Regions from separate parts of the Homo sapiens genome. Here all the other regions are linked to region 6. The links come from fine-mapping of genetic effects on gene expression. A gene starts in region 6. Each other region holds a variant in brackets. All regions are shown on one strand. Distances are from middle to middle. Region 1 overlaps LOC124903536 (a long non-coding RNA gene). Region 2 overlaps LOC105370919 (a long non-coding RNA gene). Region 3 overlaps ANKRD34C-AS1 (ANKRD34C antisense RNA 1). Region 4 has its middle 22 kb from the start of TMED3. Region 5 overlaps ANKRD34C-AS1 (ANKRD34C antisense RNA 1). Region 6 holds the start of TMED3 (transmembrane p24 trafficking protein 3). Region 7 has its middle 21 kb from the start of MINAR1.

Evidence for each region. PIP is the estimated chance that this variant, and not a neighbour inherited with it, causes the effect.
Region 1: its variant is fine-mapped to the expression of TMED3 in whole blood (INTERVAL, PIP above 0.99).
Region 2: its variant is fine-mapped to the expression of TMED3 in whole blood (INTERVAL, PIP above 0.99).
Region 3: its variant is fine-mapped to the expression of TMED3 in whole blood (INTERVAL, PIP above 0.99).
Region 4: its variant is fine-mapped to the expression of TMED3 in whole blood (INTERVAL, PIP above 0.99).
Region 5: its variant is fine-mapped to the expression of TMED3 in monocytes (Fairfax 2014, PIP 0.92).
Region 7: its variant is fine-mapped to the expression of TMED3 in whole blood (INTERVAL, PIP above 0.99).

The regions. Positions count from the first base shown.
Region 1 is chr15:79,827,072-79,831,294 of GRCh38, reverse strand. It overlaps LOC124903536 (a long non-coding RNA gene), which reads left to right. Exons shown (of 2, transcript XR_007064730.1): 2 at 1-4,223. Among named protein-coding and RNA genes, the nearest start is that of MTHFS, 68 kb to the left of the region's middle. The variant G/A (reference allele first, on the strand shown) is at 2,534.
Region 2 is chr15:79,510,240-79,514,462 of GRCh38, reverse strand. All of the region lies in intron 2 of LOC105370919 (a long non-coding RNA gene), which reads right to left. Among named protein-coding and RNA genes, the nearest start is that of MINAR1, 80 kb to the right of the region's middle. The variant AG/G (reference allele first, on the strand shown) is at 2,457.
Region 3 is chr15:79,235,191-79,239,413 of GRCh38, reverse strand. All of the region lies in intron 1 of ANKRD34C-AS1 (ANKRD34C antisense RNA 1), which reads left to right. It also overlaps the pseudogene HNRNPCP3. Among named protein-coding and RNA genes, the nearest start is that of MIR184, 28 kb to the right of the region's middle. The variant A/T (reference allele first, on the strand shown) is at 2,374.
Region 4 is chr15:79,330,876-79,335,002 of GRCh38, reverse strand. It overlaps a transcript of TMED3 not described here. Among named protein-coding and RNA genes, the nearest start is that of TMED3, 22 kb to the right of the region's middle. The variant A/G (reference allele first, on the strand shown) is at 2,132.
Region 5 is chr15:79,257,290-79,261,512 of GRCh38, reverse strand. The region is part of intron 1 of ANKRD34C-AS1 (ANKRD34C antisense RNA 1); the gene reads left to right. Among named protein-coding and RNA genes, the nearest start is that of ANKRD34C, 23 kb to the left of the region's middle. The variant C/TC (reference allele first, on the strand shown) is at 2,061.
Region 6 is chr15:79,308,539-79,312,761 of GRCh38, reverse strand. TMED3 (transmembrane p24 trafficking protein 3) reads right to left here and starts at 1,650. Exons shown (of 3, transcript NM_007364.4): 1 at 1,345-1,650. The coding sequence starts at 1,512. RefSeq lists silencers at 1,477-1,546, 1,757-1,806.
Region 7 is chr15:79,409,159-79,413,381 of GRCh38, reverse strand. It overlaps a transcript of TMED3 not described here and a transcript of MINAR1 not described here. Among named protein-coding and RNA genes, the nearest start is that of MINAR1, 21 kb to the left of the region's middle. The variant C/T (reference allele first, on the strand shown) is at 2,461.

The DNA of each region.
Region 1 (4,223 bases), 520 kb before region 6:
AAGAGGCTGCCACAAAGGCCTCACCTTGCCTCCCACCAGGACACCCTGGGCCAGGGCAAGAGCAGCTGCTTTAGCTCAGCCCTTCAGGTCAGGTCTGCAGTAATCAGCTCCTTCCAAGGAAGGCTGGGCCCAATGGGGTCTCTGTTAGCTTAGGCATGCCCTTTAGGCTTAATTCTCTCTGGTTATGAAGCCCCAAGACTCAACCCATCCCCAGCTGGCTAGTCTATTCTGTTGGACTCTGACATTTTCCCCAAACCTGGCTTTTCTCTTGGTTTCCTTACAAGCCTTTGTGTCTTCACCAAGTTGTTACATTTCTTGCTTTTTCAGTCTCTGCAGATGTTCCAACCACTACACATCCCCCTTCTCCCCCTCCATACCCATCTTCCTCTTCCTGTCTCCCTTTATCCTTCTGTCTCTTCTTCCTCCTCTCTTCTTATTGCTCATCCCTGACCTCCGCCTCGACCTTCCCCTCTTTTCCTCTCTAATCCTTCCCCTTGAACCCCAGGGATATAGGCCTGTCTGCAGAGGAAAGATCTTTGTCATGTGATTACTAAACCCCCAACATGTTATTTGGTAGAAGGCAGCACAATAGGAGTTTTCTTCTAGGGGCAAAGGGGCTATAAAAGATTTCCAAATATCATAGAAAATCACCTGAGGATGCTGAGCTCAGGGCAGCTGCAGCAGGGGTGAAGGTGGGTCACAGCCCCCAACCGCCATGGAGATGAAAGGTAACAAAAGGAGAGGGGAGAGTTCCATACCTCATTTTATTCTCTTGACAGTTTTGCGCAGAATTACCCCTGTCTGTATTATTATCACTTGTAAAAAAGCATTTTTTTCATACCATTTAATCTATCAGCCTTTTATTAAAGCCTAGATAAAAGTAGGAAAAAAAAATCTCATCAACATCAGCCACCAGAAGGGAAATTTCAGAGACTGAGATGATCAGATTTCCAAGTTTACTGAAAAACCTATAGATAACTGCATGGCTGCTCATGCTATTTTATAAAATAAGTGCAGCCAGGTGAGCCATTTAATAACGTGGGAATTGTCGGCTGTGCGGATAGTGGACAGAGCATGAGCTCACCTCGTAAAGGCGTAGGCTCTCGCGGAAATGAACACTGCGGCACACTGCGGGCCGGCAGCACAGCGTCACTCTGTAGACTGAGCCTCCCAGCTTCTCGGGAGCCGTCCACGGTGCAGCCAGCCACTATGGGACACAGTGCCTAGGTCTTTCCAAGAACAGTAGAGCCCACACTTATCCCCTCCCATGTCAGCCACACTCTGGAGCTCACATTTGGAGTAGTGAAAGGCTTTCAAAGGTATTTAATCTCACCACAATCATGAGATAGGTATGAAAACCCTCTTTTCCAAATGAAGAAATTGACCTCCACAGGAGGGAAGGAACTTTGGTGAATCCACAGAGTGGAGTGGCGGTGCTAGGGTGATTACCTAGGGGTCCAGTTCCAGTTCCTGTTCTCCTTTTGCTCCATTGGGCTTATCCCATCACCAAAAACAGTCTAGAGCCGGAGATGTTAAAGAAGCCACCCTTTGACCTGCAGGGTAAGTGTGTGAGAATTGGTGGGTGGGTGGGGATAGGGGAGTCAGGTTTGGGCAGTAGAACGGAGGAGTAATGTATACTCTAAATAGGTTCATTTCCTGACTCCCCCACTTATCTGTGTGACCCTGTATATGTCACTTAACTTCTCTGTGCCTCTATAAAATGAGGAATGATAATAATATCTACCTCATAGGTTTGTGGTAAAGGTTAAAAGAGATAATGGATCAAGCATTTAATACAGTATAGTAAGTTGGATAAATGGTATAGAGTTGGGCCCACTTTTGGAATCAAAAGGAATTTGTAAAAGTGCCTCACACATGCCTGTCCTGTAGAGGTGAGCAAGTATTTTCAATCCCTTCCTGATATCTTTCCTGTGGCTAAGAATCCTTACAGGCACTTGGGACCCCTGCCTTCCTTGCTGTGGACTAGGATGCCTGTAGGTACCAGGTTAGAAGAGTTGCTTCTTGGAATTGCCATGTGACTGTACAATGTGCTATCTGTGGCCCTGCCATTGATTCACAGTATAACCTTGAGCTGACCTCAGTCTTACCTGGATGGGCCTCTGTTTCCTTAGTTATAAAGGGATAAGGACAGAGCTACGTTTGAGGAAGTGTAGTTTGTGAACTTCTACATCAGAATCAACTCCATTGTTGATGGCTGAAAATGTTGATTCATGGGCCTTGCCCCAAGTTGGCTCAATCACAATCTCTAATGGTGCTCTAGAATGTATATTTGTAAAAAGCCCTCTCCACTTGCCCCATGCCCTGGCCTAACTCTCAGAGATTCTGATATAATTGACCATTAATACATAATGAAAGTAAATAATGGATTAATAAATTAAAAATTGATTTACTTTTTAACTTTGGTTGTTTTTAAGATTTTCCCATTTGTTTTTGTTTTTTAGCAGTTTTACTACATGTGCCTAAATGTGGTTTTCTTTGAACTCCTCTAGGGTTCATAACACTTCTAGAATCT[G/A]TGATTTGATACCTTTTGTCAGTGTTGGAAAATTCTCAGTCATCATGTCTGTAAAAATTGTTTCTGACCCATTTGTTGTTTTCCTCTCCAGGACTCCAAGTACATGTATGTTGGACCTGCTTGCCATGTCCCATTATGTCCCATACATGCCCCTCTACTACCACCTGTATTTTCCATTCATTTTTTCCTCTCATTCTTTCAGTGTGGATATTTTCTATTGACCTATCTCTGAATTCACTAATCTTTTTATCAGCTGTGTCTAGTTTGCTATTAAACCCATCTATTTAGTTCTTAGTTTTAATTATTGTATTTTTCAGTTCTAGAATTTTCATTTGATTTTTTAAAATAGATTTTAACTCTTTGCTAAAATTAATTTCTTGGACATATTAATCAGTTATTTTGAAAGTCTTTGTGTGATCATTCCAACATCAGAGTCTCCTTAGAGCTTTTTCTTTCTATGTCTATTTTTTCTCTTGGTTTCTGGCCTTGCACATCTCCCAATATGCTTCATAATTCATTTATTTAAAAAAAGTTTGTTTTTTTTTTTTGAGATGGAGTCTCACTCTGTTGCCCAGGCTGGAGTGCAGTGGCGTGATCTCTTGGCTCACTGCAACCTCCACCTCCTGCATTCAAGCGATTTTCCTGCCTCAGCCTCCCAAGTATCTGGGCCTACAGGCACATGCCACCACTCCTGGCTAATTTTTTTTTTTTTTGTATTTTTAGTAGAGACGGGGTTTCACCACGTTATCCAGGATGGTCTTGATCTCCTGGCCTCGTGATCTGCCCGCCTCGCCTCCCAAACTGCTGGTATTACAGACATGAGCGCCACCACACCTGGTCTTGTTTTTGTAACTTTTTATTGAATGTCAGGCATTGTGTATGAAAAACTGAAGAGAGAATTTGAGCCTCTGGATGATGCTATTTTCCCCTTAGAGCATTTACTTCTTTCTGCTTTTGGAAGTCAAGATAGGGGCAGATTGTTATAATCCAGTCTGGGATTGAGCAGATTTGAAGCCAGTCTTTAGTTTTTGTGAATACTGGCTTATTTGGGTTAGTCCTTATTCCCAGGCTTCAGGAGTTCCTTCTGAAAGCTTGGGTTGCATACCAGGGCCGCTCCTTTTTGGTGATGGCTGCACTATTTTTGTTTCCCCAGGATGGTGGGGCAGCAAAGCTCTGCTTAGCTTTGTAGACTCCTGGCTGCCAGTTTCTACTTCATTTCTCCTCTTGGCTTCTTCACTGATCAGTTTCTACAAAGCACAACTTCTCAGCTTTTAAGTTTTTCTTAAGAATCAACAAATGCTTTGAGGCAAAAAGCTGTGCCAAATATCAGGTTCAGTTCTGTGCTTTCTTTCTCTCTGAGATCTTGGTGCCGTAAGACCTCACCACATTTGATAGCTCTCTGATGCGTTCAAACAGGGCATTTCTATTTGTTCTTGGTAGTAGAGTTGATCTGAATATATTAGCCTATCAAAGGCAGAAATGGAACTCCCTGATAGTGGTTTTTAATCTCTTTGGGTGATTTGAATGTAAGATGCACTGGACAAAATCAACTCCTTGCCACATCATAAGAACCACCTTAGTCTGTTGTTTAAAAATGTTGATTTTTCTGGTCCTATCCTAGATGTACTGAACCAGAATTTCCAGAAAAAAAAGACTGATTTGTTGTGCTAGCAAGTGCTTCTGACAAAGG
Region 2 (4,223 bases), 200 kb before region 6:
AAAACTATTCCCTTAAAGGGGAATTCTTTTGCTTCCCTAAAAATTCTATCTGTCTAAGGCATTAGTTTCTTCTTATCCTATCCTGAAGCAGGCAGGATCATTCTGAACAGAATCTGCTTTAACAAGCATCTTCAAACATTGAAGTTACTGCAATGTGCACTTTGTGACAAGTCCCCACTGCATATTTATAATTGAGGCCAAATGCAAGCAACACTCTGTTCAATTTCTTCCTGTTGAATCACAAATTCCCCCAACAGACACACGGTGCTACTCCACTTTCCGTAGAACGGAGCCCCGCCCACTACTCAGGCACGTGACAGAGCTGAGCCAATCATATCCTCACTCCTTGAACAGATGGGCCAATGGGTGGCATGGGGTTCAAGGTGGGCCAATTGCAGTCTTTCCCTGAGATTGTTCACACTTTACCTGGCAGAATAGAAGCTGCTTTTCTTCTGTAGCTCTGTTAAGATGTGAATATGGAACTTCCAGCTGGTAGGCTCTTGCCCCTTTCCCTGCTCTCCAGCCCACCAGTGGGCAGGAGAGAACGCCAGGCTTGGAGTGGAGCACAAAGTGTGGGGCGAATGGGTCCTGGCAGCACTCCACTGCCAGGTGCAGTGATTTCCAAGGGCGGCTCCCACACACCCTTCCCACACCGTTCCCACATCCTTCCTACATTACAACCACATGAATTTTTTTTAAAAATAAAAGAATTCTGTGTTTGTTTCCTTTGCTTATTCTAGTTAGTTTTCTTCACCTGCAAGTAAGAGTTGATATTTATTCTGAGTCGCGCGGACTTCCCCTACATCGTGTGGTGTTAGTTGCTCTCAGACAGTGTGAATAAATTTCCATAATTATAAAAATTCAAATTGAACGGTTTGGTGTGTAAAGTTATTCATTCAACACATGTTATGTGCCTGCTATAAACAATTCTAAGCACAAGTGCTGGAGAAGGAAACCCCCATCCAGGCCATCGACCAGCTAAATGATTTTTTCTATTCATAAAATGTCAAAGTGGACGTGAATAATTTCATTTCATCCCCTTAGCCTTTCATTTTACCAATAAAGTGAATCTAGCATAATCAGTTAGCAAGGATCTAGGACTAGAACAGCGAGCCCCTTCTGTAGCATTACACTGAAATCAGGCCCTGGAAAATGGAGATGCTAACTGTTAGATGTAAACACCTGGGCCAGCAGCCTGGGAGAAAGATAGATGGGAAATAACTTTATTATCTGTGTAGTTCTTGTATCAGGAACAAGCATTTGGTGCTGGGGATATATTCTTAGCAGAGGCATTGGGTTTCACATAAATAGTACATCTCTTTGTCAAAGGCCTCGTTTTCCTATTCTCTGGAGTCATCTGCTACTGTTTCTACACTCCCGCCTTCACACATTATTCAGAAGTGTAAATAACAGCTGCCAGGTTGGAATAGCTTCTTTCTTCCTCCAAGGCAGTGTGAGGTGGGGGCTTTGCCCACTCACTCTCCAGCCTCCCTTCACAGTTACAGCCAGAGCATGGGGCTGCATCCCCCTGGACAAGCTGGTCCTTTTTATGCTGGAGAGGTAGCATGCATGAGGTGTATGAGCCACCGCACCAGGGCTAAGGTTTGCATATAGCAAAGAAGGAAGGCAGGAAAAGTATTCTTGGAAAGCAAAGCCCCTTAAACCCAGTAATCATTCCCTTCTCTAGGACTGGGCTCCTTCTCTGTTTTTTGAGAAGTCAGGCTCTTCCAGAAGGGCCTTGGGACACTGGGGCAGAGGGTGGCTGACCAGAGGGTGCTCAGACATTATGCCAATTGGATCATTTGTCTCAGTGTGAGGTGGGGGCTTTGCCCACTCACTCTCCAGCCTCCCTTCACAGTTACAGCCAGAGCATGGGGCTGCATCCCCCTGGACAAGCTGGTCCTTTTTATGCTGGAGAGGTAGCATGCATGAGGTGTATGAGCCACCGCACCAGGGCTAAGGTTTGCATATAGCAAAGAAGGAAGGCAGGAAAAGTATTCTTGGAAAGCAAAGCCCCTTAAACCCAGTAATCATTCCCTTCTCTAGGACTGGGCTCCTTCTCTGTTTTTTGAGAAGTCAGGCTCTTCCAGAAGGGCCTTGGGACACTGGGGCAGAGGGTGGCTGACCAGAGGGTGCTCAGACATTATGCCAGTTGGATCATTTGTCTCAGTCCTGATTTATTTCCAGGCCTATTCACTGGAGGAAGGTGTTGGCATCAGAATAAAAGAGGGAGTGTGTGGGCTCCAGGCTCAGGAACCCAGATAACTCAGGCCAACTCAGAGGACTTTGTGAAAATGCTAGGACCTTTGTTTTTCTCCACAAGGTACTCATTGACTGTGCCTTGTTGTTCCTCAATGAAATGTTTGAAATGAGCGGGGCCTAGGGACTGTTTTGGAGGATGGCGGAGAAGAAAGTTTCAGGGAGACCACAATCAACCCAAGAGAGGATCCAACAAC[AG/G]GGGAATCGTTAAGTAACCAACACCTTATCAACCTATGGCAATAAGGAAAATGCTGGACAGTGCTAAGAAGAAAGGCATGCTGTAATTTGATTGGGATGATATAGAAAGGAATGATAATAAATGGTTAACTTTGAGTAGGAAGATTCTAGTCTATTCATTTCTGTTTGTTTTGTTCTATTTTCTGAACCATCCCTCTTTCTGTTTGCCAGCCTCGACGAGGGGCTTTGCACTAGTTCTTGCTTTCCCAAATGTTCTGTCCCCAGCGGTGGCTGGCTTCTCTCATCCTCAAAAGACACCTGCTCAGAGAGCCTTCCCTGAGCACCAATTGACAATATGTCCCCTGCAGTAACTACAGACACTTCCAGTTTAAAACCAAACAAATAAAAGTCAGAAAAATTGGACTAAAATTAATTTTAAAATAGATGTTTAGGAGGAGATATCCTCACTTTCAGCTGGGATAGCCAGCATATACAAGCATATATCAGCATAAGAATGCAGCTTAAGTAGCAGCATGTCTACTCTGGTTTTTTTTTTTTTTACAAGCAGTGGTAATTGTTAGACCAGGGTGACACAGGGAGAGTAGATGTTATTCTTAGGGATGATTGAAATAAAGTACTGTGATTCTATAACTTAATGTGTGTATTATTACCCAGATGATTTATTTGTTCTCATAATTTCACAACCTGCCACTGGTCTGGACTAACTTATTTACCTATACAGTAATGTGAAATAGGAAACGGATCTTGCCTTCCAGATGGATAAAGCCAAGGTGGTTAGAAATGATGAGTTGTTAATGGTCTGAGGTCCATTCACTCAGTAAATAATTATTGAATGTTTATTCTTGAGTAAACACTATTGATCAGAATGAGAAAATGTTGTACTGGAGAAAAGGAAAGAATCGAGGTTAGTCAATAGCACTGACATTGGTTAAGGTATTAGCGTAAGGAAATAATGTAGAAATGTATGGGATCCTGGAGAGGACACCAACAGAACTGAAGGAAGCTTTCACTCTCTGGACCGTAAGAGTAGGAGTCAACACTGGATGTTTGATCAAGTCAAGTTTAGACTTTGGTAAAGGCTGAAATAGGCATATGTTACTCCTAGTTATTACCTGGCAATGGAGCTCTCTCCTCATGCTTATAGGAAGAACACATGGAAATTAAGTGTAATAAATGGTGCGATAGTAGGTGGCCTATTTAATTTCACCTCAGGGGGGATAATACAGATGAGGAATTTGGGGTACCCGAATAAATCAAGAGCTTCCCCTCCACGTTGCCTTTCCTGTTCTAGTTGTTGCCATCACTGTGTGGAGAGAAAGTTGAATGGAGGGACGGTGGAGTCATTCTAGTGGATAAACATAGTAGCCTGCTGTTTGGATTGCTTTCTCCTTCACTTGCCATTCCCCACAAGGTTTGATTCTTCCCAGAGAATGAGAAAGGGAGTTCAACAGGAAGTCAACAGTTACCATATTCCTAGGGACAGCGATGGGTGCTGGGGAGTTGGTGAATGCAGTCCCTACCTCCAGGGAGCTTACAGTCAAGCAGGAGAGACAGATGAGAAAACAGTCCATTTCAGCAGCGTGAGAAGTGGTTCATGAGAGTGGAAGGGGGGTAATGAGGGATCTCACATGAGTGGCCCATATTGAGCTTTCAGGTGGTGAGGAGAGCTTCTTAATTTTAGCTAGGGGTCATTTTAGCTAGGTCCCGAAGGACAGGTGTGATCTGGTGGGTAGAGGAAAAGAGGATAGTCCAGCGAAAATGATCCA
Region 3 (4,223 bases), 73 kb after region 6:
TCTGTGGGAATCCAATAGTTGAGTATAATTCAATTACTGGATCCAAACAGAGCATTGTGCTTAATTCCTACCTTCCCAGTAGCAGTAGTGATCAAAGTCTGTGACTGAGCTCTCCCCAGGAAGAGGACACTAGAGTTAGCCTTGTTACAGGAGTCCCTTAGTCCCCTTGATGAGAAAAGTATGGGATCATAGTACACAGACCTGGATTTGAACGGTTGGACCACTGCCAGCTTTGAGATGCTGTGTAAGATGTCACTCTCCAATCTTCCGTTCCATCATCAATACAAAGGGAATAATAGTAATAGTATCGCAAGATGCCATGGGGATTATGGATAATGCAGGGGCAGCACATAGGAGGCACTGAATAAATAGTAGGGTTTTTGTTTGTTTGTTTTTTGTTTTTCCTAAGTAACCAGTTTATATTCTAGTCATGGGTTACTTACTAAAAGTTTGTGTAACATGAGATCACATCAGATCAGAAAACATCAAGTGGGTAGTATTATTAACCGATTAACATACAAAAGAAAGTGCCTTGATATCATGTATCTGGGCTCCAAGGGTAGTCCATAGTTCAGCCTCTTCTTTCTATTCTGCTTTTTTCACCTGTTATATAAAATGATCTATAAAATCCTTATAAATAAGACATGAGTTTTGCCTGTAACGCGGTAGGATGAAAAAATACCAGTGCTGCATGCTATGAAACAATAGAAACTTTATAGGGGAATCCAAGGTTTGTGTGCACAAAAATTATAAATGCCATTTTCTGCTGTGCTGGAAAAACTGAAGCATAAAACACAAATGAACTAGGCCTTTCAAGGATGAGGTATCACAACACTGGTAGCTATTTAATGTATTCATCTTAAGAAGACTGGATGCTAAAAATGCAATCACTGCAATTAATAAAGTTGAGAGAAAACACAAAGATTAGCTAATATGAGTAAAAGATTATTTAGGGTAAAATAAATGTGTAACATTCTCTATGTTCTCAATCACCTGGGAAGGCAGACTATGGAATATCAGGAAATAAGAATTTTCTTGTTTTCAGTAACATTGAGGTAACACTTCAGAATTCAGAAGGTAACTGTGGCTATAAATAGTAATTAAAAAGACAAAATAGAAGAAAGCAGGGGTTCCATTTTCCAGCTGTTGCAATTTTCCTGAAATCTTAATGTTTTTGAGCCTCTCCTATTTAAAGACAAAACAATTTAGCACACAACAAAAACTTCAAAAAGGGTGCCAGCTGGACCACAAAGCACTGATGAAAAGGCAGAGAGGCTATACTTCCCAAACTTTCATTAGGATGTAAAAGCCATTTTGAAAAACAATCTCCACTCTCTGTCAAGTTATTTGACTCCTCAATGCAACATGCATCTCAATGAAATAGAATTTGAGTAGTGTTATGTTGGTATGCATAATGATTATGACTTCAAGAAAAATATATCTAGTACGTTCTGGGGGTTTTGTGGAGGACTCTGTAAAACAAAGAGTTTGAAGTAAACAATAATAAAATACAAAAATTTAAAAAACAGGGTTTTTTTTTCCTCCAAATTCCTGGTTTAATAAGGACCTGTTTATTTTGAGGAAAAAAAGTTCCCAAACATCAAGCTGTTCACAAAAATAACACACAGTATCAACTTTAGAAAACAAATCTTAAGACTATAACACTCATTATTTTTCTAGAGGATGCATTTGACATGCCAACTCTCATTCACAAAAATACATTGTTACATTTGTGTTGAACTGCCCCACACAGCACACTAATGTGGGGGTGTAACACACATACTTCTAATCAAAGCTGCTTTCAGGAGCTACTCAACTAAATAAGCTTGCCTTTGCAGTCAGGGAAGCAACTACTGAACTTATGTATGAATGAAAAGAACTGTCCTCCCTGCATAACAAGAGATTATTTTGGAGACAGTTGATAAAAACCATACATCCTTTTTATTAAGTCATAAAGAGGTATCAAAATTAAAAGCAAATATTACAAGGTAAGACTTAACAAAACTACTAAGAGTGCCAAAGGAAGTGAAAATGGGACTAGGCGCAGGGCAATATGAATTAATAAACATGGGAAGGACAAGGATGGGAAGGACAGTGAGCATGTGCCAAAGATACTAGGTGAGAGGCTCTGGTGAAAAATTTGATCTTAGACAAGTGCCTAGGTAAAGAAATAATGGAATAAGATTTCTAAACCCCACTATGTGCTTAAGAGTCATCCATGCCATTGGTGCTGTCTCTGTCATCCTCTCCTTCCTCAGCCTCTTTTTCATCATCCTTGATCAACTCCAGCTGGTCATCCCCCCATCCTCATTATCATCATCATCCAGTAGGTCCCCCTTCTCAGCACAGTCATCTGCACGCCCCTCAGACTCC[A/T]TCTTCACATTAGTCTCATCTTTTTCACGGAGCTGCTGCTCTGCTCCTCTTCTGACTTATCATTCCTCATCTCTACTGCGTGTTTGCTCTGTTCCTTTTCAATTTTTTCCAGGTTTTCCAGGAGAGAATCCACTTTTTGTTTTATCTGGGTCAACTCCTTCATAATGGCCTGAAGGTCATCTCCTCTCAACTTTCCAGACTTGGAAGATCCCTGCTGTCCACTCTTAGAATTGAGGCCACTTTTGCCCCTTCATGAGGTGTTTCCTGATACACGCTGACGTTTTGAGAGCACTACAGCCCAAGCAATAGGAGGAGGAGGAGGCACACGTGCTGAGTAACTGTACATCGTGTCATCATAATCACCTTGATAGTCATAGCCCAAGTGAAAAGAGGAGCTATACATCTCCACTGCAGATCGTTTCACGCCTGCTTTTCCACGGTTCACTTTTGGCTCTGCAGCCAGGTTAATATCTAAAACCTGGCCAGCAATCATTCTATCATCCTCTCCTGCTCCAGCAGCCCGGGCATTTCTCTCACTAAAATATTGAACAAAGGCAAAGCCCTTATGAACAGCACAGCCCATTTTGCCATACTTCGAAAAGATTGCCTCCACATCAGATTTCTTGACCACAAGAGTGTTGAGATTCCCAATGAACACATGGGAGTTCATGGAGCAAGGATTTGTCTTGTTGGTAACGTTGCTGGCCATTGTGTTTGCTGATAAGGTTTCTCACAAAGCTGAAAACAGGAGGGGGAGGGAGAAGAGATTCGATTCTGAGTCTCCTACTCCCGGGTTCTACATGGAGAAGCCAACTGCTGCTCAAGGTCACCAACACGGCCACAACCACTCAGTCTTCGTCTCTTCACAAAAAAATCAATAGTAGGTTTTTTTCCTCACCTGTGTAACATCTTGTCACTCCAGATAAACACCACCATCCCTGAGCTGGACTTGACCCAAGTTCCCTGGTCACATCTCCATGGCTTCCAAGTAGATGACAGCATCCTGGCTGGGCTATCAGGTCCCAGGATGCAATGATATTACAGAAATAGTTCCTGTGGCCCCATAAGTCTACAGGATTGAGGCTGCTTCTCACCTCTGTCTCCTTCCAAATTGGCTCTGGAACAGGGATAGGCTGTAATATATAGATGGGACCCTCAGAACCTCTACCTGAGGGGTTCAGGGGAGCCAGAGGCAGGTAACACCAGGCAGGATCCTCCTTGAATTCATCCTTTATGCCTTTAACAAAGTAACCAAGCACATGCTCTAGCGATAATCAATTTAGGCACATCCCACAGATTCCAGCTTCTCTGCCACCAACCACCAGGCATGATCTAAGCAAGCTCTTTCACCTCTTGGAGCCTTAATTTTCTCATCTACAAAATGGAATAACGCGATCATCCTTGAAGGTGAGTTACATGTGATCATGGGTGTGAGCAGCTCTTTGTAAGCAATGAAGGCCCAAGCAATTGGAAGGGGTGGTGATCATGGAACTGTCAAAGGTACATTTGTTGCTGTGAAAAACTGAAGGTACTGGACCATTTTCTCATCTTTCTACAGGTTGCTGGAATCACAACTTATAATTAATGCACAGTGATATGGCTTGACCCAGTTTCCTAAATTGGAATGTTTCAGCTAAAACTGATGAAAAATTCTTGTCTTCCAAGCAGAACTAGCTAGATGAACCCCCTCCAGAGCTAGTGAGTAAATATATACAGTGAAATATATATATATAAATACATTCACTTATTCAACAAATATTGATTGAATGTCTACTCTGCACCATTTATTAAGCTTGGTGTTTTTCCTGACTTGTCTCATGTAATCTCCACATGAATTCTGTGAGGTAGAC
Region 4 (4,127 bases), 22 kb before region 6:
TCTTTAGTGTCCCTCCCTTGATTTCAGCAGTGCAGTGCCTGTTCTCATTTTGGCATCTTAAAGTTAACTATCATTTCTGAAATGATGTTTCCTCTTCCACATATTCCCTGAGACTGGACAGCTCCTTTTCATCTCTTTTGTTGTATTATAACCCCTTCTACAATTTCTTGTAACCTTCTCTGAAGTCTTGTTGCCTTTTTTAATTTTTTTCCTTTTTCTAAGACTATGAGGGAAAAAATGTGTGCACTGTTTGACTTCCTGGAGTAATTCTTCCGAAATACATTTCCTGCGTGCCTTCTATTTGTTACTTTGCCGTGATCCTGGTCTTGAATTGTCACTTTTCCTTTTGTGATCCAGGTCACTGATTTGCTGAAGAGTCACACTGTGTGGGGAGAAGTTGAGGCAGAAGCAAGCTGCGAGTCAGAGGTGCCTTCTCCACATCCTTTCTCATCAGTTCTCCTGAGATTTGGGGCTATAAAGCTCCCCCCGACCCTTCCTTCACCTGCCACATCTCCTGCACACCTGCCTGAAAAGCTTCTCCTCTGACCCCACCTGCCCTGCCACTCTGAAATGAGGAAAAGAGAAGGGGTCACCCCTGCTGCTCACACATGGCCCCTAGATGCTGCCATTCCAAGCTCCACCATTTGGCCATTCAGGACCAAAACCTTCTTCTTTTAGGAAAGTCTTAACCCTCTAGGACTGTTCTAGTCCTCTCCTTCCCTTTAGTTCAAATATCACTGCATTTGACAGCCACTCTTCATAGCTAGTGATTTTTGACTATGGCTCTTTCCTGGTTTCAGTAATTTAAATTCTATTTTACTCTTATTTGCTTGGGTTGATTTTAAGGAACTGGATGTCGGGGGAAGACAGGGATCTTCCTTTTTACTTCAGAAGCCCAAGATAATTAGTTTAGAACAGTTACTCTTAAGCTATTAGTTCTATTAATTTGCTATTAGCTAATAGCAAATTAAGTTCTACTAATTTGCTATGGTCTGTGAGGCTACTCTGGATTTGTGATAATCTTATCAAACCACAAATGCTTAGGAGGATATGTTTTCCCCAATTTCTTAGAGCTGAGGTGAGTGCATATATATTAATAAAGTTGGTTTTGATTCAAACCATGTTTGAAGGAGAATCTACCTGAGTACAGCCCTGTTTTACTTAGTTTGAAATATTATATTGTCATTTGAGGACTCTTTCCTACTAATTCTAATTCTCACAGTAGCTTTAAACAAAGGGTGTGGGGGCCTCAGCCACCAGGAGTCTATATTGAAAAAAGGTAGCCAAGCCATTACTGTTTCCTGTGCACTACTGAAAGCTGAAAATAGCCCAACAAAACATGTGAAAGTCTTATCAAGTTCTTGAACGATTTCTCCAGGATGTGATCAAAAGTGTAAAAGTAGTTACTGGTGCAGAAGCCATATCTGAAGACTATTTCTTCCTATGGTCAAATATTGAACTGAAAAACACAAACCTGCAGAAGGAAAATAGCCTTAAACTATGTTAGCATCTCCAGAATTATAATGGCTCAGTAGTTTTGAGGGCATACAAACGCTTATGTCTAGCGTTATATTAGGAAAAAGACAGTTGCTTTCTACATAACCTAAAAGTTCCAGTTTGCAGTTTGGTGGTGAGCAGGGAGGAGTTAACAACATTCTAGTCTGTCACTGCCACCAGAGCTGGAAAAACAGGTTCTCCCCAAACTTGCTCCATATCCTGTCATTCAACTGTGTTAGATTTTGCTTGCCTATGAGTTTGACCAAGAATGTTCTATCAGCATTCTTACAATTTTGCTTAAATAAATGTCACAGGGGAATGGTCTCCCCAGTAGACCTGTACCAGGTAAAGTCCTAGCACAGATGCACTCCGACTTTTGGTTCTTTGGAGATGAATGTCCTAGAATACACAGAGTTTAAAGACTGTCCCACTGCAAGCAGGCAGTCAGAATGGAGTGCAAGAGAAGGATTTATGCAAATGTCAAAGCACAGAGGAAGCAAACCAGGCGAGATGGAACACTGGGCAGTCAGGGGCCATTCATTCCTGCACAGACTGGGAATAAAGTGGCCACAGGCTTCACCTCAGCTATGTTTTTCCCTAAGGCTGGAGAGGAGGTGAGCCTGAAAGTTTGGAA[A/G]TGACGAAGTTAAATTGCTAGACTCCATGTCCCACATCATACAATATGGAAGCCCAGAATACATCATAAACACTAGATCAGATGACTTTTGTTCAGAATGTCACCCAGCTGTGCTCCAGGAGGGAGATATTAATCCATGGGAAATCACAACCAGGTAGGTCCGTGGGCCTGGAAGGAGGCCACCATGAGACACTTACAGCTGAATGATAAGCGAGAATGGGCCTGCCGGTTTTACCTTGTCTGGAAAGCAGCCCGCCTTGCCCCAGCATACTGGCCAAGCCTCTCAGAAGGCAACATCTTCCTGATGGCAATAAACTATGGGACTATTGCTGGAGGGTTGCCCTTAAGAGAAAAACCAAGTCTTTAACATGTCTTAGTGGGAGGAAGATTCTGGTAAAATAATAGCTTGAATGTGCCCCAATTGCCCTCTACTCCCACTTTTAACTCATCCACCTCACCAGGCTGAAGAGTTTCGCATTGGCCAGATGGCCTGTGTGAGCGAGGCATCACCACATCTGAGAGTTTTGAAGCAGCTGTACAGGATTGTCTCCCTTGGAGCCTGATGGGCAATCCTGTCTGCTGCTCTCAATTAATACAGTTATTAATTCTATCCATTGATGATGGCGGTATCTACCTGCTCTATCATTCCCTCCATTGGTTCCTTTAACATCAGTATGTAATCTTCCTGTTCAGTACGATAGTTTGCCTTGAATTCTATTTTGTCAGATGCTACGGCTATTGCCTCACTTTTCATTTGGTTATTTCCCTGGAAAGTCTTTTTCATCCTTTTCTTTCTTATTTATGTATTTATTTATTTTTGAGACAAGGTCTTGCTTTCTTACCCAGGCTGGAGTGCAGTGGTACAATCATAGCACACAGCAGCCTCCGTCTCCCAGGTTCAAGCAATCCTCCCACCTCAGCTTCCACAGTGTATAAGAGTTCCCTTTTCTCTGCATCCTCACCAGTATTTGTTATTTTTTGTCTTTTTCAAAATAGCCATCCTAACTGGGGTGAGATGATACCTTGTTGTGGTTTTGATTTGCATTTCTCTGATAATTAGTGATGTTGAGCATATTTTCATATATTTTGTCGGCCATTTATATGTCTTCTTTTGAGAAATATTCATTCAGATTGTTTGTCCATTGTTTAATTGGATTTATTTTTTATCTTTGATATGTTTGAGTTCCTTGTACAGTCTGGATATTAATCCTTTATCTGATGAATACTTCGAAAATATTTTCTCCTGTTCTTCAGATTGTCTCTTCACTCTGTGTCTTTTGCTGTGTAGACTTTTTAGTTTGATATTATCCTTTTTTTTTTTTTTTTTTTGCTTCTTTTGCCTGTTCTTTTGAGGTCTTATTTATAAAATCATTTCCCAGACCAATGTCCTGAAGTGTTTTTCCTTTGTTTTCTTCTAATAGTTTTAACATTTGGGGTCTTACATTTAGGTCTTTGATCATTTTGAGTGGATTTTTGTGTTGGGTGAAAGATAAGGGTCTACTTTCATTCTTCTGCATGTGGATTTTCAGTTTTTTCAGCACCATTTATTGAAAAGACTGTCCTCCCAATGAAGGTTCTCAGCATTTTTGTCAAAAATCAGTTCACTGTGTTATGGTTTGGGTTTATGTCCCCACCAAATCTCATGTCAAACTGTAATCCCCAATGTTGGAGGTGGGGCCTGCTGGGAAGTGATTAGATCATGGGGGCAGATTTATCATGAATGGTTTAGCACCTCTTGGTGCTGTCCTCACAATCTGGTTGTTTAAAAGTGTGTGGCACCTCCCCTCTTGGTCTCATACTCCTGCTTTCACCATGTGAAGTGTTGGCTTCATGAGTAAAAGCTCCCTTAGGCCTCCCCAGAAACAGATGCTACTATGCTTCCTGTACAGCCTGCAGAACTGTGAGCCAATTAAACCTTTTTTCTTATGAATTACCAAGTATTGGGTATTTATTTGTATCAATGTGAGAATGTACTAATATAGCTATAGATATGTAG
Region 5 (4,223 bases), 51 kb after region 6:
TAAATATGAAAGATCATCAACGTGACCATATCCTTTGACCCAGTTATCCTGCTTCTGGAAGTGTTTTCCAATTCAACAGAGCATAAAAAGGCTTTATTCTAGGAATAAACATGCATTAATACATGCAAAGTACCTAAAGAGAGGGTAAGAGAAAGGATCTAGTACTGCTAGGGGCATATTCCATGCCTGGTAATTTATCAGCAATTTATATATTTCCTCCTACTTAATCCTTACAAAATCTTTTAGAATAGGTATTGCTATGCCCAATTCTCATATAAGAGACCGAAAGATAAGAGAGCTTGGGAAATTTGCCCATGATTACACAGCCAGCAAGTAGCAGATCCACGATTCAAACTTAACCTACCTGTCTCCAAAAACAAGTACTCTTTTCAGTACGGTTTTTAAAGATGTACATGGAAGTGTCTAAAATAGCGTCAAGTGGACCGTTAACAGCTGAGAAGACAACAGATACAGACAGAGATGACAGTGTGCTCCGTCGAGGGCCTCAGCACAGCCCCAGCCTCTCCCTAGTCCTCCCTTTCTCACTCTCCTCCCCTGAGCTAGCTGAGCATCAGTTTGGCTCCTTTTTCTCTCCCTGCCCTCATCCCTCCCAGGTTCCTGGCATGTCTTGGACCTGAGGTCCCTTCTCACTGCTCTCTCACGCAGCTCCCAAGCACCTTGCCCAGTAGAGCCCCCTTGCACCCTGCTTGGTTGGTCAGCACCCCATGGACATGCAGCCTTGACCTTGGCATGGGAAGCCTCCACTGTGTCAAGCCCAACATCCAGGCCTCTGAAGACAGTCATTCAGGTAGGATGAAGGGAGAATGGGGCCAGAGAAGGCAGGAGAACATTGGGTGGCCCTGGGGTGCTTGTCATTTAATAAATGGGATAGACAGTGTGTGCATGTGTATGTATATGTGCATGTTTTAATGATTGTGAGTTGTGGTGGGGTGTGTGGCTGTGTATGTATGTGTGGTTTAGTAAATATGAGTATCAGCATGTATGCACGTGTGGGCAACATGTACACTCATCTGCATGTGTGTGTTTACATGTATATTGGGGATGCCTTTTATGAATGCAAATGTTATTTTGTGTAAGCATATCTGTATATGCTATCATGTAGGCAGGGATGATTAAGCTAGATGTAATGTCTTTTGCTTCTGAGAATGAGAGGATACCAGCAAATATATACTTTGTTTTACTAAGTCTAGAAGCTGAGATTCTTGAGTATGACTGTTCCCCGGGGCAAGGGTATCTCAACTTTGGCACTACTGACATCTCCACGTAGGTAACTCTTTGTTGTTGGGGCTATTCTGTATGTTTAGCAGCATCCTTGGCTTCTCCCCACTAGATGCCTGTAGCAGCCACCACCGCCTCTTCCCCAACCATTGTGATAACTAAAAACATCTCCAGATTTTGCCAAGCATCCCTTGGGCTACAAAATCATTCCCTGAGAACCACTGTCCTAAACCATCCTTTTCATCTCCCGCTGCATATTAAAATCATCGCTCGGGCTCAAAAAGATCAGTGGTTTCAGGCAATAGTGGGGAGGGAGGGATGACTAGGCATACATAGCACAGAGGATTTTCAGGGCGGAAAACCACTCTATATGATACAATAACAGCAGATGCATGTCACTCTACATTTGTCTAAACCCACAGAATGCACAAAACCAAGAGTGAACTCTAATGTAAACTGTGGTCTTGGGTGATAATGATTTGTCACTACAGCTTTATCATTTATACACTTTATTTTTAAAAATATCATTTTAAATTTACCCTCTGGGCAGGGGGTATTGATAATGGGGAGGCTGTACACTTGTAAGGATGGGAGTATACAGGATATCTCTGTACCGTCTGCTTAATTTTGCAGTGAACCTAAAACTTCTCTAAAAACTAGAGTCCATAAAATAAATACATAAACAAATAAAACACACATATGCAAAAAAATGCCTAGGCTCCACTGGATCAATTAAACCAGAATTTCTTGAGCATTGCCAATTTTTAAAAGGTCCTAGGGACTTTTCTAACAATATTCTCTTTTTTCTTTTTTTTTTTTTT[C/TC]TAACAATATTCTCATGGGCAGACTGGGTTGAGAACCCTTGCCTTAATCCAGTGGTTCTCACACTTGAATGTGCGTCGGAATCCCCTGGAGGCTTCTCAAAACTCAGAATACTGGGCCTCAAACCCAGAGTTGTTAACTCAGGAGGTTGATGAGGCCTAACAATTTCCATTTCTAACAAGTTCCCAGGTGATGCTGATGCAGGGACCACACTTTGAGAACCACTGCCTTAAAAAAAAGCGATTTGCAAACTTAATGCCCACAAGAATAACCTGGATAGCTTACTGAAAATGTACATTTCTGTGTCTAAATATTCTGATTCTGTGTATCCTGGGTAGGGTCCAGGAATTAACTTTTTAACCTTAACAAGTCATATCCCAGATTATTTTGAAATAACAGAAAAACCAAATCTATGCAGGGTTTCTAGAAAACCCCTTTTGGGAAATGCTGCAACATGTCAGACAGAAGATCAACAACAGTGTGATGGATGAGGCCCTTTTTCTGGAAACAGGCTCAGTTGGGGGTGCTGCTGAGGCTGGGGCACTAGGAGAGCCATCTCTGCAGCAGGAGCCTAGGGCCCAAGAACTTCTCTCACAGATTTAGTGAAGGCGGGGGACGTTCACAGGACCAGGTCGAGCATGGAGGCACCAAAGCCAAACTCTCTAAAATTAAAGAAGCTCTTGGAACACTAAATGAAGAGGACCTGATGGCCAGTCCCCATTGCCTCCTGCTTTGCTCCCTGGACACTGCCTAACTGATAACTGACCTTCATTTCCCAAGGCCTTTACTCACACTTTCTTTCATTTACAGTAGTGTCAAGGCAGGCACAAAAATGGCCCATGTGTAGTCATGATGTCTCAGCCAGGCGTGGCCAGGCACACATACAAGAGAGAAACCCTCACCTTTCACATTATCAGGTTCTTACCCACCTCACGTATACCTGTTTACCCACTGGTCACATCCATTCTTTCTTGTTTACAAGCCCTCTGGTCTCCATCCTTGCTGTTTACTTTCCTGTTTCCATCCTTACTTGGGTTTCTTAGATTTGACACAGCAGTCTCCTGGCTTCACATATGGCTTCACTGAACAGTAATAGAGACTGATGTAGCCTTGGGCCAGCCTGGGTGTGGCCCTCCCCGTGGGATCCAAACACAAGACCCACTGCTTCTGAACCATTGCCTACAGTGGTCCCCATGACCTGACAGATGACAGTGCATGCATAAGACACCGAAGTTACTTGCCTTCAAGATGCTGTAATCTGGATCTGAAAACTAAGATGGAATGAGCAAGGCAAGAAAAAGGAAAGACATGAATATTAAAATGTTAGAGATTATGAATATTTGCAGATAATGTTATTACCCACCTTGAAAACCCAACACACTCCATGGAAAAGCAACTAAAAGATATATCAATAATTTTACACAATAAATGCACAAAAATGAGTACTTATTCCATATGCCACTGAAGTGGCATCATTGTCTGGGGTAAATACCTGGAGTTCGTCATCTCATGCCGAGAAGATTAACGAGACGACACAGAAACACACACATGGAGTGGGTTAAAGAGCAGAAAGTTTAATAGGCAAAAGAAAAGAGAGAGGAGAGCAGCTATATCTCGTGCGAGAGAGAGAGAGACTTCTGAAAGGGGGAAAAGCGGCAGACTGCAGCAGATTTTATAGGCAGGCTTGAGAAGGCGGTGTCTGATTTACATAGGGCCCACAGATTGGTTTGACCAGGTGTGACGTTTACATGGTGTGTGGGTAAGGCTGGTCGCCCCCACAATCTTATTATGCAAATGGACTTTCTACTTAGTCAACTGCCATCTTGTCTGCTCCTTGCTGTACACGTGGTTGGCAAGGAAAAGAGAAGATGGAGCCGCCATTTTGATCATCATGCCTATTCCCAGGTAGTTTCTTCCTATTGGCACAACTGTGGGCATTCACCTGTGCAAGCTTCTAGCTTGCTTGTCTATGTCTGCAGCTTGATTTTACAGGCTGTTCTTTCTTAAAAAGAAAATGATTTGGGGGCTGCTTTTCATTAAAAGGAAAACCTTACCGAGGACTCCCATACCCTCACTATCTTCCTAATTTCTTTTTAATTCCTATATCACCACCAGTAAGAATTAGCATGAGAAAAGGAGCCTATTCACAATAGCAATGGTTAGAA
Region 6 (4,223 bases):
ATCGAAGTATTCATGGAATTTCTGAGTGTCAGCGGTGGAAGAGTCTTTGGGAATCATTTAGTTCAAACTCTCCTTGTAACATAAGAAAAATAAGACCCACATAAAGCAAAATCTCACAGGTAGGCAATGGCTATAACCAAGATCCATCAAAGGACACGGTCAATGGCCTCCATCTGCTTCCAAATTTAAATGGCCTCTTTGTCCGGACAAAAGTTACTAGTCCTGCTCAGCAAGCTTTGCAAAAAGCAGTGAGTATCCTGTTGCTAAGTGTGTTTAAACCCAGGCTGGACACACTTTGACAAGGGATTTCCGCCCTGGCAGTGACCAGATGACATCTGAGGTCCCTGCAACCACAGAATTATCATTCTTTTTGTCATTGCACCTAGGTTGCCCATGTTAACCCAGTCACAATTTGCATGTTGTCCACAAAGACCTGAAAGTGGACAAATCAGTGACTGAGACTACCACATAGAAGTTGTCTCCAAGCGCAAGCTTCCTTCAGTGCCTCTAACCACAGAGGAACTGGTCAAATAGCTTGCCCCCATTCCTGCTGCCCGTGGCCCCTCATTTCTGAAGTGCCTATCAGCATGCGTCCACAAGCAGATAGCTGTCTGAGTATGATGCCCACTTGGCCCCCAACCCTAGACCTGCTCACTAAATATCGGGGCAGACTACTCACTCAAGACCTGCTCCTGTCACCTGTGGGCCACGGGATCTCTCAAAGGAGACAGGAATACAGGAACTGAGCTTTTCTAAGCCATATGGCAAGAGCCAAGTCTTGCAGCCACACCGCTCCTTGTAAACACCGCCAGGCCTCAATGGCTGCACTGATCCCTCCTTTCCAAAGTGCCCATTCTCACTTCTGCTGCCCTCACCTCACTCCAACTTTAAACGCTGGAGAGGGGAGGAATAAACTAAAACTATGAGCCCACTTCCTCTTGCTGCCATTTTTCAGTACTCGAAGGCACAAGGTGGTCTAAGAGACTGGGGTTAGAGAGCCTGTGTCCAGCCGATCAGAACTGCCGTTGGTTAGTGTCTCGGGGGCCTGCGGATATCTCTTTGGCCAGCTCCCCAGGCTGCGGGATCCGCCCTGGCGTCCCCATCCCGGGCTCGCACCTGCGGCGCTGACTACCTCCTCGCTGGCCAGGCTCGTCTCGGGTGGGCCCTGATGACCCAAACCTTCCTCCTCACGGGGAAGTCAACTGGTCTCCGGGGACTCCCACCCCATGCAGCCTCCCTGTAGCCTGTGGCTAATTCGAGCGCCTCCAGTCAGGGGCTAGCCAGTGTCCAGGTGAGACCTGGGAGTGGAGGGAGAAGGGAGCGCTGCCGGGCGCCCGGCCTCACCTGGTAATCCAGGGAGAACTTCACGCCCTGCTCCACCTCCTCGTGGAAGCACTGCTTGGCGTTGTCCGGCAGCTCGAAGGTGAGCTCGGCCCCGCAGGGCTGCTCGGCCCGGCGCAGGAGCAGCAGCAGAAGCAGCACGGAGGCGGAGCGCGGGACAGTGCTGCCCATGATGCTCTCGGTCCCGTCTCGAGGGCCGCGGCTCGGGCGCTGCGCCCCCGGCGGGCTGGGGCGACGACTACCGACCGGGTCCTAGGAGGATGTAAGGGGATAGACGTGGCACCAGCGGAGCTCTGCGCTTCCGGGAGGGCCGGCGGCTCAGTGCGCAGCCGCGCGCTCAAAGTGGGCCCGGGCACCTTCCGCCCGCTGCGCGTGCGCGCTGGCCGCGCTGCGCCAGGGGACACGCCCCCCCCACCCCCCCGCAACGCCTCTCCCGGCTCGGAGGGTGGGTCTCCGCGGAGGGGAGGTGGGGCTCCACCTAGCGCGCCCCTACCCAGAAGAGGGAGAAGCCCTCCCCGCTGTTCTGCGCGCTCCCGGACCCGCAGGGCTGAGCATCCCCCCAGGTCGACCCAGGTCCACCCTCCAGCTGCTGCAGCACGAAGCACGTGGGATTTTACTCCCTCTATAAGGCTCCGCTTTTGACAGGCTCTGTAACTTCAGTCTCACACTTCCCTCGAGAACCAGTCTCCTTGTCTTGAAATGGGTGTGCCCAAACCTAACATCCACAGTAGTTAGGGAGCTAGGTGAAAGATAAGGGAACGCTGGGAACCCGATTAACACTCCTTTCTTCATTCCCATACCCTTCCCAAGGTGAAAGAGTGTGCGAAGGGGGTGGGGAGTGGGGAGAGTAAGTAAAGACCCATCATTACACCTGCTCTGGGAAAAACACGAGCGTGCTCACACACAAACGATCTCATGAAAATCCAAGTAAAGTCTCGCAGCGACTTCAGGTATATTTTGGCTGTCAGGCTCGTTGAAAATTCTTTTTGCACAAAACTGTCATTTTTGCACTTTGACTTCTTAAAAGCTCTGAAAGCAGATAAATTGGTTTACTGTCTTACCCATGACCACTGACTTAAGATTCTTTTGTATAATCGTAACTATAGGTATAGTTTTATATTCACTGTGATCCAATAAACAAAGAGAAAAGACGTAGATTGTGATGTCGATACTCAATAAATAACTTATTCAGGAGAGCATTACTAGACGTGGTATATCTTGACTTCAGGAAAGAATGTTACTGCCCATATAGATTTCCGCTGGCCACATTCACTATGGATGAACACGCTAATGTGTGAAAGCAATCTGTAGGCTTGGAAATAACATGCATGCATAACATAGTTAATAATATTGACTGGCTCAGTGACAGGCATGGAAGAGGTGTTTAGTAGTGTCCCTTAAGCTTCCTTCCCTGGCACGGTCCTATTTCACGTTTTTTTTTTTTTTAGGAACTGATAGAAAACATGGAAGTAATAATCATCTGATCTAGATGAACTAAGTGGAGAAATAAATGACAGATATAAAACCACAATTGGCCGGGAGTGGTGGCTCACGCCTGTAATCCCAGCACTTTGGGAGGCTGAGGCGGGTGGATCACGAGGTCAAGAGATCGAGATCATCCTGGCCAATGTGGTGAAACCCCTTCTCGACTAAAAATACAAAAATTAGCTGGGGGTGGTGGTGCGTGCCTGTAGTCCCAGCTACTCGGGAGGCTGAGGCAGGGAGGCAGGGGTATTGCTTGAACCTGGGAGGTGGAGTTTGCAACCTGGCGACAGAGCAAGACTGCGTCTCAAAAAAACAAAACAAACAAACAAAAAAAAAACACGATTGCCCTGGCACAGGTGGAGTGCTCTGCTAAGACTAACAAAAAGAAATTTCGGGCTGGGCACCATAGCTCATGCCTGTATCCCAGTATTTGGGGAGGCTGAGGCAGGAGGATTGTTTGAAGCCAGGAGTTCGAATCTAGCCTGGGCAACATAGTGAAACCTCGTTTCTACAAAAACAAACAAACAAAAATTAACCAGGCATGGTGGTGTGGGTCTGTAGTCCCAGCTACTTGGGATGCTGAGGTGGGAGGATTGCTTGACACCAGGTGTCTGAGGCTACAGTGAACTGTGATTGCACTACTGCACTCCAGCATGGATGACAAAGGGAGACCCCATCTCTAAAAATCAAAATAAATTCCTCCGGATTAAATGTTAAGTCTTACATTTAAGTTCCAAGAAAACACCTGCATAAGTTCAGGGGAGGAGCTGACATTGAAGAAGCTCTAGTCAGAGCATGCAGGCTGTTGGCTGGGACACCTCGGTTCTCCTCCAAGCATCCTCTTACATCTAATAGGCTAGATTACTTCCTTATATGGCAGGTTCAGGGCAGCATCCCAAGAGGAACTAGGCAGAAGGAGCAAGGCCCCTGAGACCTAAGCTTCAGACCTTTTCCAGTATGACTTTCTCCACATTCTGTTGACCAAAGCAAGTTCAAAGGCCAGCCCAGATTCAAGGAGGTGGAAAAATGGAATCTACCTCTGGATTTGAGGAGTTGCAAAGTCACATTGCAAAGGAGGGTCATACTGGGATGGAAGGAATTATGGCTGTTAAGCCATCTTCTATAGTATCCAGACTCACTCAGCTTGTCAATGGCTAAGCCAGAAAGTGAACCCAGATCTGCTTAATTCTGAAGACTACCAGCTTCCCACTAAACACACTGCCTCTACCCATACCTCAGGGAACACTTGTCCTACATGTTCCATAGGGCAAACCTTGGACCAAAGCATGAATCTGACACTGAGGCACATTTCAGCTCACACAATAAATGATTTTCTGGAACCAGAGATTTCCAAAAATAGAATGGACAAGGATAGTACATTTTTCATACCCGAAAAT
Region 7 (4,223 bases), 100 kb before region 6:
CACTCCTTGATGAGCCAATAATTGGGTGGATCACAGAGCTCTACATACAGCTGTCTGCGTTGCAAACGATTGACCTGCCAGTGCTTTGAAGGGAGCTTGGGTCCACAGCTACAGTCCTTCTCTGAATCTCTTTTTTAAAAATCTTTTAAGTTTAGGGGTACATGTGCGGGTTCAGAACCCTGGCTGGAGAGCTAGTGTGGTCATTTGGAGAAAGAAGGTACTCTAGTTTTTTGTGTTTTCAGAGTTCTTGCTCTGGGTCTTTCTCATGTTTGCAGACTGATGTTCCTTCAGTCTTTGAAGTTGCTGTCCTTGGGATGGTTTTTTTTTCTCTTGTATCCTATTTGATGACCTTGAGGGTTTGCTTGTGTTATAAGATGAGTTCAAATGACTGGCTTCATTTCTGGAAAATTTCAGGGAGCCAAAGCTAGGCTTCCAACTCCTAGACTGCATACCCTAACCCTAGGGGATTGGTATCAGGCCCAACTTCGTTCTCTGGCTCCTCAAGGTTAGGAACCCACTGTGCTGGGTGCAGCCAAGGTGCTCCCTGACTGCTGGTCACAACACTCCAATGGGTGGTGCCAGCCAAAGCATTTTGTAGGGCAGTGGCAGTGGAATCTGTCCTCATTCACATGTGCCAGTGGTAGTGGCAGTGGCAGCGCAGCAGGGTGCATGCTCATTGGCTATGGCAGGGTGCTAGGGGGTGCCCAGGTGCCAGCCTCCATGTGGGCATTGGCAGCAGCAGTGGAGGCAGCATGACATGGGAAGGTGGGCCCCTCACGCCCAATGGCAACTTCGCATGCTGTCCCGCTGGTAGTGGTGTTAGCATGGGAGCGGGAGACTGGCAGGTGCTGGTCTGCGTGCACCCTCTGTCTGAGTTTTTGCAGGCAAGGGTGGCTGCTCAGGGTGTGGTAAGTCCACTGTTCTCCCTGCCTAGTTTCACTCCAGCAGCAGTGTTAGTGCAGGGGCAAGGCACTGGTGAAGGTGAGGCTGGTGGACTCTGTGCCTGCCAAGGCTTTGACTGCAATGATGGCATGGTGTGGGGAGGAGGAGGCTGAGTTCACTCATGCCAGCAGCAGTGGCAGGGCAGGGCACATGCACACATGCACACTGGCAGGGCAGAGAAGGCAAGATCTGCCTGCTCACATGTGCACCAGCAGTGATTGGGGGGGATGGCCATGGGCCCAGCGGAAACTGCAGTAGAGGAAGGAAGTGGCTGGGCTGGTGCATGTCCATAGGGGCTGCTGTGCTGGAGCTTTCTGCTTTGGGTAGCCCTGGGGGCCCGCATCACAGCTACTGCACTGGCAAACATGGTGTGGTTTGCCAGCACAGGAGCTGTGATGCGGGCCCCCAGGGCTACCCAAGGCTGCACTGCAAGCAGGCACGGCCAGTCTGGGGCTCCAGGAGAGACCAGAAAACCAAGGGGTGCTCAGGTTATTGAACTGGCCTCATCTGACAGGCAAGACCACCCTGAAGAATTTAGTTTCAACAGTCCCCCTAGGGTTAAAGTCTGCCATGGGAGCAAGTCGAGCCTAGAGGGATGGCTGTCCCTGGCTATGCTTTATTGCAAATGCTCCCACACCAAACCCTCTGGGCTCCACCCAGGCTGAAGTGCTGCCCCTACCACTTCTCCAAGCAACTCTCCCTGCCAGCTCAAGTGTCTGTGGTGGTCAAGGAGTCTCCTCCTGCCGGGATTCCAGAGGCCTGTGGTGAGAGCAGGTTGTTCCTTGCCAGTTTAACTCACCTGTTCCCCTGGAGTCACTGGGGACCAGGAGCTAGTCCCAGTGCATGGTAGCTCTGTGCAGCAGCTTCCTCCCACTTCAGCGTAGCTTCTGTGTCTTCCCTCCATCCACTCTCAGTGCCTCCCCGCTGAAAATCTGTTAGGAGGGTGCCAGTCGTCCCAGTCCCTCGGTGGCAGGTGTTCCGCCTGGCTGCATATAGTCGACCATCTTGTCCACCTCCTTCCAATAAGCTCCTCTGAATCTCTTCATTGTTCAAAAAGATAAAAAGATTTAAAGGATGAAATGTGGAACCATGAACTGCCCAGGATAAAGCCCTCCATTTGCATTCTCTAGTTCTGTTGATTGCCTAGCCCCTTTGTGGAAGAATTTACCTTTATTGCTGGCTCTAATTATCCTCCCCTAGCCAGAAAGTTTACACATTCACCTGCCAGAAATGGGGAGCTCTTGGGAACCACAAGATAAATTGAACAGGCTCTAGTTCCTGTTTTTCCCCTGGATGCCTGTGTGACCCCGGGTGAGTTACCTAATATCTCTGCAACTATTTCTTCCCGCATACCTTAAGTGATTAAATAAAATGATCAGTTCTGGAATTCTGAAAATTTCTTTGCTATTGCTAATTATGAGCAACCAGCATGTTTCTTGTTCTCGGGTTACAAATCAGTAAGACAAATATAAAGAGAATGCTTTGACATCAGGGGTCAAAAGACACATAAAACACTAT[C/T]GTATAGATGTGACATTCCTGTCAATATATTTTCATTAAAAAGGCAGGACATGTTTCTGGAAATGTATTGTGATAGACTTGGGAAATTATAATTTAGATTGAAGCACTTGCAAATCATTGCTTCTGAGAGGTTGCTGCCAACTTTCATAATTTTATTTTTCCTTTATCCTGGGCTGTTATTCATATACATGCATCTACGAGAATGTATATATATATATATATACACACACACATATACACATATATATATTTCACATGTATCTTATTTTTTTCCACAATTTAAAGCTTAAACACCTATGGGAAATCTTCAAGGAATATTTTGTAGGTCCCCAATAGCAGTCATTTCCTGTTAAATTAAGCTGGTGATGGAATTTACTGTATTACCTAAACCAATTTTCATCCAGTTGCAGTGAACATCCTGTCTGGCATGCTGGCTGCCTTTGTGATAGTTGTGCTCTTTTGCTGGCCACATCACAGCTGCCCCTCCAAGTGCTCTCCCCAATTAGGAAGATGCAATTAGATGACAGCGTCACCCTCTCCTATACTGTCAGTAATAAGGAACAGATGCTTCATTCCGATGGGAAAAATTGGGTCTTTTCACAATTATTAATATCCTGAATTAGAATGGGTTGCTTTGTCATTTTACCTAGTTTTCTATGAATCTATAATATTTAATGTCTTGTTTATTTAACCATGAGGCTGATAAAGAAAGGGAACACTATAAACCATTCTAAGCATATAGAATTATGGGCTATGTTTCTGGAAGGAAATATATAAACCTCCCAGGCCTATGAACTTATTTTTCATTTTAAACAATTATTTACTTAATGAATAGGTGGCATATGTGTGCGGCGTAAAATTCATCGGGTATGAAAGGAGCATAGGGTGTAGTGAAAAGTACCAATCCAATCTAGTATACCTCTTATCTAAACTCAGCACAAAATTTCCTAAAATGGATCTTCGGGTATTAGTTTACCCCTCTACAGGGGCAACTAAGGTTACCAATTTCTTCTGTATCCTCTAGCTTATTTTACAGTTCAGGAAAATTGGGCTCAGAACAGCAAAATGATTAATCTACAGTCACATGGCAAGTTGTTTGCTGCAGCCAAACTAGAACCTTGGCCTCTTCACTATTAACAAAATTTCACCCATAATACATAGCTGTCACTCGGCTCCAGGCAAACCAAAGGCATTCTTTTCTTACAATACGAACCAAAACTTTCTAATAAGAGCAGAAGGCTGAGGAAAACATTCAGACAAAGTGCTTTTATTTGGTTGAATGGTCAATAAAGAACACAGAATATTCTTTTTAAAAGAGATGTATAAGAAATCTATTCCAACGACCTTATTTTACACATGAAGAAATTAAGGCTCACACTGGGAAACAATTGTCCAGCAAATTAATGTTAGCGGGCCCATTTGCATGAACTCTGAGCAGTGTTTGTGACTTTGCAAATGGAATACGGGTCCTCCCTTGCCCCACCTCCAATCATTACCTCTTGGTTCCCCTGCCTATATCTGGGGCATTGTGGCTGTGTTATACTGGAAAATGCAGGAGCGCATTGATTTCCTATAATGGTTTTATCTATAGAAATTTGTGAGGACATCCTTTGGTTGGAAGATTGGCACTGAATATCTGAAAGTGCCAAATTGAACTGAGAAGGAGTGTTCCAAAGTAGTGCCTCAAATGAACCTTTGCTCATCAAGAAAAGTCTCTCTCTGCACTTGCAGACTGTAACTCCTCGACCTGTCCTTATAGGATG